Regions from separate parts of the Homo sapiens genome. Here region 2 is linked to region 1. Evidence: fine-mapped QTL for protein levels in blood plasma. A gene starts in region 1. The other region holds a variant in brackets. All regions are shown on one strand. Distances are between the middles of the regions. Region 1 holds the start of ST3GAL1 (ST3 beta-galactoside alpha-2,3-sialyltransferase 1). Region 2 overlaps ST3GAL1 (ST3 beta-galactoside alpha-2,3-sialyltransferase 1).

What was found. PIP is the posterior inclusion probability: the model's chance that the variant is causal. Sun 2018 read protein levels with aptamers (SomaScan).
Region 2: its variant is fine-mapped to the plasma level of the ST3GAL1 protein (Sun 2018, PIP 0.95).

What each region holds. Positions count from the first base shown.
Region 1 is chr8:133,569,174-133,574,196 of GRCh38, forward strand. ST3GAL1 (ST3 beta-galactoside alpha-2,3-sialyltransferase 1) reads right to left here and starts at 2,714. Exons shown (of 10, transcript NM_173344.3): 1 at 2,520-2,714. It overlaps ST3GAL1-DT (ST3GAL1 divergent transcript), which reads left to right and starts at 1,399. Exons shown (of 2, transcript NR_186509.1): 1 at 1,399-1,697; 2 at 1,885-4,683. RefSeq lists enhancers at 474-543, 501-1,354, 714-933 and silencers at 2,724-3,213, 3,404-3,463.
Region 2 is chr8:133,487,958-133,493,465 of GRCh38, forward strand. The region is part of intron 3 of ST3GAL1 (ST3 beta-galactoside alpha-2,3-sialyltransferase 1); the gene reads right to left. Among named protein-coding and RNA genes, the nearest start is that of ST3GAL1-DT, 80 kb to the right of the region's middle. RefSeq lists enhancers at 524-1,307, 2,785-3,330. The variant C/T (reference allele first, on the strand shown) is at 2,948.

The sequences.
Region 1 (5,023 bases):
GCCCAGGTCCTGGCCTTGTCCAATCAGACTCTAAACAGCAAATGCCGGCCCAGAAAAATGCAGGGAAAGCAAACTTCAGGGTTTGTGGGATTTTGAAAAGGCAAGAGGAGAAGGAGCCCTCTATTCATTCTTTATTTAGCAAAAAGTGTACGATGGAACTTTTTTCCCTAGACCTGAAGTCAAGGTATACACATACACACATGTAGAGTATGAACTACCTATACATACACACATTCACTTAATTATATGTATTATCGCCACTCGCAATTATGCAGAACGTATTTTGGAGAATGTATTATTGGCCTCATTTTGCAGATATAGAAACTGAGACGCCGAGAGGTTAAGTCTGGCGACCAAAGAGAGACAGAGACAGAGAGACGGGAGACTAGAAGAGGCCCCACGCTGTACCCAGATATTGGCAGAGGCTGAGGGGCACGGAGTGGTGAACTCTAGTCAGTCATTTCAGCCAACCATGGGATTTCAGAAAACAGCCGGCAGGGGTCCTAATGTTTGGGGCAGGAAGGGGAGGTGCGGGAAGGCACTGAGGGACCCCCGCACTGGGCGCCCCTTCCCCACCGCAGAGACAAGCGGCAGTTTCCACAGCAGCCGGCAGGGGGCAGTGCACCTTGCCTTTTCGAAGCCTCTGGGCGCTTGGGCAGCGCGGGGTAAAGAAAATCAGGAGGCTCCGCCCGCAGCTTCTACGAACAGGCCAGGAGTAGAGCCCCCGCACGTAGTAGGTGCTCCAGGCACGTCTAGAAGCCTAAAGGGCTTGGTCGATACATTTGAACTCCATTTTAGAGACTGGAAGGGAAGAAGGGGGCGTCCGGGCCCCTGCCAGCACCTTCCACCTTGGGGCCTTGTCAATGAACACTGCGTTAGCACCTACGACGTGCCAGGCGCCCTGGCGACTATTGGAAAACCCGGCTCCCCTCTCACCCCGTTTTCCTCGTTGGCGAGTCGGCCTCGCCTCCTCCTCCCGTCTCTTCCTCTCACCACACACACCCAGCCGCAGAGCGGGGGTGGGCGCTCGCTGTCTCCCTGGAGAACCAGCTCGTCGCAAACTTGCGGGGCTTGGGGACCCGCGAGGGGGAGAAGTCGGGAGAGGCCAGGGGTGCCCGGAAACAATCACGAGAAAGCCGGGCGAATGCCTGATGCAGGGACGCGGCGAGCCAGTCACTGCCCTCAGGGTCACGGCTGACTCCCTCTGCGGGACTCGCCCAGCCCGCGAGACGCAGTGACCTGCCCAACCCCCACCCCCTTGCGCGCTTCTGGGTGCGCACGTGTCCCCTCGCCCAACACACCACCGAGCCCCGCGCATGGTACGGCCGCCGAGGACCCTAGCGTAGGAGGGAGGAGCGAGTCAGGGCTCCAGCTGACGAGCAGAGCCAGACGATCCCCACACGCTTCCTGGGAGACCCGGCTGCAAGGCCAGGCTAATGCGCGCTCCGACGTCTCTGTGCCAAGCCGGGGCGCAAGCTCAACCCCCATCTCAAGTTCAGCCGCGCTTCCTCCCGCAAGGTCACGCTTAAACACTCGCGCAGAGAAAGGAGGAGCGGAAAGTTGCGCCACCGTCCCGATTCCAAACTAACTGTACCCTCACCAGAGCGCCTCGCCCCAGGGTCACCGCTGTCCGTCCCCGTGCGCTCCCAGAAGGGGTGGCCCTGCCCCCACGCAGGTCACACACACGAGAGACACAGGCAAGTTGCTAACTTTTGTCAGATTATTTCTTGGGAGCTGCGACGCCTCACGGGGTTGGGGCGGATTCAGAGTTTCGAGTTGCCACTAACACGACTCCGGCCGTGCTCTCCTTGGCCCACCCGCGTCCCCCACTGTCCGCCACGCCGCGTTCAGCTCTCTTGTCCCGGGTGTCAACTTCACCCCCAGATCCGGAGCAGCGCGCTCTGACGGCGTCCCCGGGGCCGATAGCCACCTCCCGGATCTGCGCCTGCTTGCAGCGGATTGGGGGACTCGATCCGGATACTGTCCCACGGCCGCTCGTCCAGAACACTGGCGGCCTCCGCGGTGTCCCAGCCTGTGACCCCAAATCCGCTCGAGAGCGCCTGAGCCCGGCCACCCAGCGAGGTCTCCTCCCACGGGCGGCCCCAGCGGAGGAGATCCCAGCCCGGCGCCGGGTGCAATGTCACTGGGGCTGCTTTCGGGAACCGCTGCCCGGGACTTGGCGTAGGTTCCCCACAGAGCTCCAGGCAGCTCCTCCAGTGTCGGCCGAAGACCCCTAAGCCCGAACCTCCACCCCGACCTTCTTCCTCTCCCAAAGCCCTGGGTGGTCGCCGCTGCCAAGGAAGGGGTCTCCCTTCGAATGTCTTCCACTAGAATCCCGGGGTCTTCAGTCCCAGCTCCACTGTCACACCCTCCTAGTCCCCTCCCCACCCCTTCAGTTCCCGGGTCCAGACAATCAACCTTCCACTCCGAGAATCCACAGGAAACTGCCCGAGCCCCAACTCAGGCGGACGCAGCCCCCGCGCACCCCGAGCAGGGTTCGCCTCCGCGCGCGCACTCACCACGGCTGGAGACACGCTGGAGTTTCCGGGATTTGGGCATGAAGGGGTTCGGAGGAGAATACAGGGGTGTGGGTGTCCCGGACACTTGCCCCCTTCCCAGCTCACATCGCCTCTTCCTTCTCTCTCCGCTCTTCTTCCTCCTCCTCCTCCCTCCGGTCTAGGGCTCTTTGTCTTTGCAAAGTGTCGAAACTGTCTGGCATAGTGGGCTCCGCCGGCGGAGGCTGGAGCCGAGGAAGCGAGGAGGCGGGATGAGGGTGGGAGAGGGCTCGGGAACACCTTCCCCCGGGTGTAACGGGAGTGAAAGGCGGGGCGACCGAGGAGGGGCCGCCTTCCCTGGCCGGCCGGGGCCGGGTGCCAGGGCGCGCCAGAGCCCAGCCACCGCCTCCCCTGCGCGCGGCCCTCCCCTTCCTCCGCCCAGTGCCCGCCCCTCCCGACTCTGCGCCTCCGTTCGGCCCCGCCCACCCCAACTTGGCTCGGCTTTCCCTTGGCTCCGGGCTTCCTGCAAGCCGAATTTAGCTCTGCCAAGCCACGTGGACCGCAGCGGGCTCGGCAGAGGCCGAGCCTGGGAGACGCCGGAGGCGGCGGCTGCGGCGCGGGGACCTGATCGGCGCCCCGAGAGGAGCTCCCCGCTCTCTGGACGCGGCCCTCAAGCTGGCGGGGCTAAGGAAGAGCGCCCGGGAGGCCCGGGAGCCACTGGGGTCCGTTTCAGCAGGAAGACGGGCACGCACCGAGAGGATGGCAGTGCCCAGAAGAACTCGAGTCGGGGGCACGGTGGGGAGAAGGGGCCGATCCCCTGCTGGCGACCGGGCAGAGCCACCCACTTCCTCTAAGGGCGCGGGACTCGAGGTGGGATTTAGGGAGGGGGAAGGGAGGAGCGTGGGCTGGACGACTCTTGCGGCCAGAACCGCGTTCAGAGCCACAGAGCCGGGCACTGCGGCCGGCCCTGGTCCCGGCCCCGGCCCTGGCCCAGCCCTTGCCCTGGCTCGCCTGCCGCCGCTTTTTCCTTCCAGATGCGGAGGCTGCGGCTGGAGCTTGGGGTTTGCGGATTAGGCTTGCAGTTATTCAGCCCTCCCTCTTTTACAGGGAAGCGGGGGCGGTGGAGACTTCTTTTGCTGAAAGGCAGAGTGCAGCGCTTTGATGCTAAATGCAGTACACAAGTCATGTAAATCTGGTTTTACGGTTCTTAACCCCTTACTGAGACTACCTCTTTCGCAACTTTTCGGAGGAATGTTAGAGGAAAGAGGCACAGTTTGCCTTTGGGGTCATTGCATCCTTCCAGCGCCCCTTGCTCCAGCTGGAGAGAGATCAACCTTTTGCAGTGGAAGGGGAGAGTCCCCCAGCCTTTGTTTCATCAGACGGCTGCTGTAGTACAGGGATTCAGGCCAGGGCCCGCATGGCCGGACTTCTTGGTTCAAATCCTGCACTGCCACTCAACGGATGTGTGAGCTTGGGCTAGTGACTGAACCTCCCAGCCTAGGTGACTCTGTGCCTCGGTGTCCTCATCTGTGAGAACCGACCTAAGAAGTGTCTGTCTGATAAAGCTGTTGTGATGAGTTAGTGAATTCGTACACATAGAACCTTTAGAACTGTCTTTGACATGTAGTAAGTCAGCTGTGTAGATGGTGGGTTTCTCCAGTGTCAGGTCCCTGCCCACAGCAGGAAGATGACCTGTGCTAGAAGATGGGGGCTAGGGTGTTGGGGAAGACTTCAGGGACTTGGGAGAGAAAAGGAGAAATATTCAGAGATGAGAAAAGTAGAAGAAAAACCAGCTTTTAAAAGGGGGAGGAGAGAGAATGAGAAAAATAACTACTAGAAAGGGAAGGAAAAGATGAATAGCCTTTTAGGTACTTCGGGACCTGCTCTGAGACCTCTTGCCTGACGCCCTTGGTTTTTGATAGAATTCTAGAGAAGGGGTGAGCCCTTTTGTCTGCCTGGACACATCCTGTGGGCTTTCCTCTTTCTGAAACTCAGGTCAAGGTGTTCACTGCATCTCCAGATTGCTTGTGTGCATGGGAGGAGGGGGGCAGAGAGTTCTGCTTACATCGGCTACTGTCCCCTCCACCAGCAGCGTCTTCCAGCAAAGAAGAGCTTCTAACATGCACCAGACTTTTAGCTTTGGCTGGGAATATCGTCTGGGCCAATAAAGAGTTTTTGGATGAAATAACAAAAGTGTTGTTTATTGTATGGATCAAATAATGTATGGGAACATATTCGAAAAATAGAAAATGCTATACTCATATAAGACTATGCTACTATATCCTAGTAGATTCTGTGGAAAGAGGATCAGATTTGGCAAGTAAGGAGCCCCAGGTCATCCAGCTGTTGCACTTTGCAGCCAAGAACCAAAAGCAGCTCAGTTTTAGCTGAGTTCTTACTGTATGTATTCCACGTGCAATACTGGCAGTGCAGTAGTTTTGTTTATACCAGCATCACCACAAACATGTGAGTAATGCATTGAGTTGATGTTCTGATCACTAGGCACAGGAGTTTTTCAGCTACATTAA
Region 2 (5,508 bases), 81 kb before region 1:
ACTCTGTCGAAAAAAAAAAAAAGGAGAGAGAAAGTAGAATGATCTTCGTCCTTGCTCACTGAAAGCAACATCACAGGGTGGGACAGAGGCTGAGATTATTAAGGAATCACACAAAAGACCAGCTGTGATGGTTAGATTTAATGTATCAGCAGGCATGTGGCTTGCCCCTGTCATCCCAGCTATGTGGAGGCTGAGGCAGGAGGATCACTTGAGTCCAGGAATTCAAGGCTGCAATGAGCTATGATCATACTCCAGCCTGGGGGAGCGAGACTTATCTCTAAGTAAATAAATAAATGTAATGAGCCAGCTTGGCTAGGCCATGGAGTCCAGTAGTTTGGTCAGACACTCGTCTAGGTATTTCAGGGAAGGTAGCATGCAGATGTGGTTAAGCTCTCCAATCAGTTAACTTTAAGTAAAGGAGATGAATGCAGGTGGGCCTCATCCAATAGGTTGAAGGCCTTAAGGGCAAAAACTGAGGTTCCCTGGAAAAGAAGAAATTCTGCCTTAAGATTGTAACAGAGAAGTCAAGTCCTGCCTGAGATTTCAGCCCTCTGGCCTGCCCACCAGGTTTTGAACCTGGCAGCCTCCACAACTGCCTGAACCAGTTCCGAAAGTTGAATCTCTTAATATGCATACACAAATATGGGATAGGCTCTGCTCCCCTGGAGAGCCCTGACTGGCAGCCTTCAGTGCCACGAGCAGAGGGCGTAAGAGGGACTGGCTGATGTCTGGGGGAAGTGGTAGTGACTGAGGGTCCACAGGGTGGACAGGTGATTGGGCAGGGAGTGTGAGAGCCTCCCAGGCAGGGGAAGCTACAGGTATGAAGGCCTGTGGGGACAGTAGGTGAGTCCAACGAACTGAAAGAAAACAAAGTCAAGTGGATTGGAAGACTGCAGCGGCACTGGCAGACAGGGGGGGCCAGGCAAGGTCTGGTGGCCCCCCTAAAGTCTGGACAACCTCCTGGGAGCCACAGGAAGCCCTGGAGGAAGGCCAGAGGGAGAGAGGGAACTGGGGACAGGCAGTGACTGCCTTGGCGCCCTCCCTGTGGGACAGCCAAGGGCTGATGGTCCCTTGCTCCTGTCAAATGACCCCATCCACACATTAGCTGTGTCCTGGGGGTCTCAGTAAGTCTATGTCCTCTTGTCCCTTCAGCCCTAGGGTTGGAAACAGTCCCACCATTTCCAGCCCCAGGGACTGCACCACACTTGCTGTTTCCTACACCACACTATGACCTTGTGAATGACCTTTCAACTCAGCTCCCCTCCACTGCCCACTTTGAATGCACCATTTGTGTCCTGCCAGCACCATGACCAGTCCAGGTGACCCCGCAGACCTAACTCCAAGGGGCACAGCTGACAATGTGGTCTAAGCAATGAGTGCCCCAGGAGCTGTGCCCCACAGAAAGCCATGCCTCCCGCCCCTCCCCGGACACCCCTCTGAGGCGCTGGCCACCTCAGAGGATTTGCAAGAAGCACGTGGGTCAGCTGGATGCCCTGAGCCCTGGCCTCCCCTCCACCTTGGGTAGCTGCTCTCGCTAGAATCTGCCCAAACTCTGCTCCAACTGCTGCTGGGGCACTCACCCATCGGGAGATTTCATCCTCAGGCTCATGACACTGATAGGGTCTTTGGCAGGGATGGCACCAGGGGATCCCTTGCACCACTCAGCCAAGTTCAACACATTCCAGGTCCCACCAGGGGGACACTCCAAGAAGCCTGTCCCCCAAGCTCCCTGATGACAGCATCAGTCCCTCCCATAGAAATGTAGTCAACACCAGTAGAGCCAGAGGGCAAGGTCCCCTTAGCCCGCCCATGGCTGCTCCAATCAGCGCCTGTGGCTTGACCACCGCCCACTCCTGGGCCCCTCTTGGAGTTTGATCTGCTGGGTCCTCTCCTGTTGTTCTCTGACTCCTGCCGGGCTTAAATATCAAAGAATCCTCATTGTTTGATAAGCCTGCAGACAAAAGCCCATGGAATATCTCTAACTAGATCTAGTGGCCTCTGGTCTGCCCCTCCTTCTCTCCAACTCACTCCCTCCCCAACTTATCTGTGCATGCCTGACCCATCCATAGCTAATACATTTCTTGTGTGTGGATGCCTGGCGAAAGTCCCCAGGGGCTCTTCGGGCAGGCATTTGCTCTTTGGGCAGAGAAGGAAGTTGGGCTTTGAGAGACTACGCAGTATTTTAGGGACTAGCTAAAGTGCAGTTCCAGGTCCTATGAGGGAGGTGACACCATAATCCCATTTTACAGAAGGGGATGCTGAGGCCCTTGGGTATCAGTGGCTTACTCCAGGTCACATGGCTAGGAAGGGGTGAGGGCCGATTCCTGAGCCTGCTCTTCCATGCTCCACTGCCGTACCTCACCCAGGTACCCAAGCATGCCTGCGATGCTTCAAGAACACAGCTGGCGGCATGCGTATCTTCACTGCTAGATAGCGAAGCCGCACACTAGGCCGGCTCCAGGATCTAGCCCAGGGCAGTTCACACGCATAAATCTGCTCAGGAGGAACCAGTGCCTCCCAAGACATGATGCCAAGGGCCTTAGTGATCCACAAGTGGCAGGTGAATGACAACCAAAGGGAGAGGGAAGGCTGTGTAAGGCAGGTGGCCATGGAGACAGGGGGCATAGCACTGATGGAGGAGGGCAGAGGGGGAGGGTAAACCAGGCCTGTGCCCAAAAAAGCACATGGTGGTGATGATGGAGACGCTGGTATGTTACAGAAAACAGGGCGCCCTTCAGAGGGGCTGCTGTGGGTGGAGCTGGATCGTGGAAGTCCTGAGGAACGTGGACTTGGGGACTGAAGGCAAAGGGGAGCCCGGCTGGCTTGTGAGCAGCAGACAGTAGTGATTGCAACTGGCACATCGTGGCTGGACTGGAGAGGGGTGCACAGGACACCCTGTGGGAGTCTAGAGAGTGGCCCGGTCTCCATGAGCATGACTTGGGAAGTC[C/T]GTTTCCTTTGGAGCCTGTTTCCCTGCTCCTTTCTGCATCGGCGCCTGCCCATTTGCCCCACAGCCCAGCAGTGCCAGCAGGTTGGGAGAACCCTTCGATGTGCTTGCAAATCTTCCTCTTTGCACCTTAGTGCCTCCTGCTTGTTCCTTTGCTGGGGAAGTCGGGGAAAAAAAAGATTCTGCTGAAGCACAAATAGTGGCTCAGAGTAGGCAGTGTGGAGAAGTGCCCCAGAGAAACACGATTAACCAGGATTAGGGTCACATGAGAAGGAGGCGAATATGTTTTCATATTCATAGCCTCACAAAAAGAATTTAAATCCACAAATCTTCTTATGTGTGTGGATCGAGGAGTGCTACATTTGGAGTCCTAGGATAGCCAAATGACATTAGAAGCGTGTAACGTGGCTGGGAATTCCAGGGGTTGCACTATGCGCGCACCCAGGCTCACACCTGTCCCAGAAGAAAGGATTTCCCCCCATTTGGGTGGTGCTGGAGGCTGATAAAGAAGAGACAATTCAGAGCTCCTAATGCCCCTTACACCTGCCCTCAGGCATCTGTCGCTGGTTCTAAAACCCTCAGCATAAAGGAAGGGCTGGAGGTGTGGCCGCTCTGGAGCCGAGATTCACAGTCTGACACGTGGCTTAAAGAGGCCCCTTTCTCCCTAGTCCGTGACTTCACGGAAATATTTTAATGCTACTGATTTTCAGGGGCATCCAGGAGGTGCCTGAAGGAGCTGAGGGGCAGCCTCTAGCAGTGTCCCTAATGGGGATTAAGATCACGTTATAAACCCAGCTACTACAATGGCGAGGCATGCAGCACCCTCCAGGGTTCCGGGATGGGTGGGAGCGTCAGGCGACAGCAGGCATTTCGCATGAACCATCCCATCCCTACACACTGAAGGTTGGAGGGGTGTCACGGTGTCCAGTTGGATCACAGGATTAAACTGCCCTGGCCCAGGCTCAGCCCCACCCCCATACCTGGGCCCCAGAGGAGAGGAAGAGTAGCTCTCATCAGAAAGGGCCCAGCAGTCAGGAAAGGAGGGAGACCTTGCCCTCTTGACCAGGGGCTGCCAAGCTGTCCAGTGGGAGGAGCGAAAACATGGGTGGCCGGAGCATATGGGCAAGGATCGGCACCACGGGGTCAGGGCATGCTCAGAGCAGCTGAGGCCTGGCAGCCCTGGTGAGGCTCGGGATGGACGATACGAGGGGACACTGGGCAGCTTGGACCAGCAGAGGCCCAGCAAGCAGGTGGGAGAACAGAGGCCAGTTCTGACCAGGAGGCATTCCCAGAGCCTGTCCCTGGGGGTCAGGAGGCGTGGACCATGGAGAGACTGAGATACTAGTATTGATGTCTCCCCAAGTGCACCCCCAGCTCATGAGTCCTGGAGATGGCTGGGGAAGAAAGCACTGGGTCCTGTCCCTAAAGTGCACCAACTCTGTGCCAGGCTCCAAGTCAGCACTTCTCTTAGGTTGCTTGTTTGACCTCAACAGCTTTACCAAGGGGTGGTATGTTCTCTTTCAAAGTGAAGAAATGGGGCCAGGCGTGGTGGCTCAAGCCTGTAATCCTAGCACTTTGGGAGGCTGCAGCAGGTGGATCACTTGAGGTCAGGATTTCCGAGACCAGCCTGGCCAACATGGTGAAACCCTGTCTTTACTGAAAATACAAAAATTATCTGGGCGTAGTGGCATGTGCCTGTAATCCCAGATACTGGGGAGGCTGAGGCATGAGAATTGCTTGAACCTGGGAGGTGGAGGTTGTAGTGAGCTGAGATCGCACCACTGCACTCCAGCCTGGGTGACAGAGCAAAACTCTGTCTCAAAAAAATAAGATAAAAGGTGATCCAAACAGCCCGGCTCCAGAGGCCCAGCTCTTCATGCTAAGAATCTACCTTTCGGCCTCAGCTGGTCTCTCTGGATGGCGCCCATACCCCACCTCGGGGAGCGTCCATGCGGCAGGGGGAGTTCACCTCCACTCAGCCCTACTCTGCCCACTCTCCCCACAAAGTGATCACGAGTGCTCCTCACCCTCCGTCCAATAAGGAGGCGACTCTGGCAGGAGAGATAAACTGAGCTACGCCGAATGACCGCTGGGAATGGCCAAACACCCTCATGGCCAGAGGTGCTAGAGACAGCTCTGTCCCAGCTCTGTCTGAGCTGGCCACCAGGTAGGCATCCAACACTGGGAGTGTGCCTCCCATCCCACACTGCAGTCCTTTCCGGGACCTCCCAGGGGTGGGAGGACTGGACGCACTGTCCCCAGCTGATCATTAGAAGGCCTCCCACATAGGGAACACAGCATTTTAAAAACATCTTGTTCTGCTCAACTTTAAAACACACAAGTCTCATTTTATCTCCTCCCACAATGCAGTGATAAGAGGTGGGCCTTGCCAAGGCTGGCTGTACTGCTTGGGTCTTGGAGAGAAACGAAGACTGGAAGGGCAGGAGGTCTAGGGACGGCGATGGCAGAATGTGCCCAGCACTGGCTAGAGACCGCCATCTGAATTCCAGCTGTAATGCTTGGCCAGCTGGCTGAGCATCCTGGGGTGGGTGGAGGGTGCACAT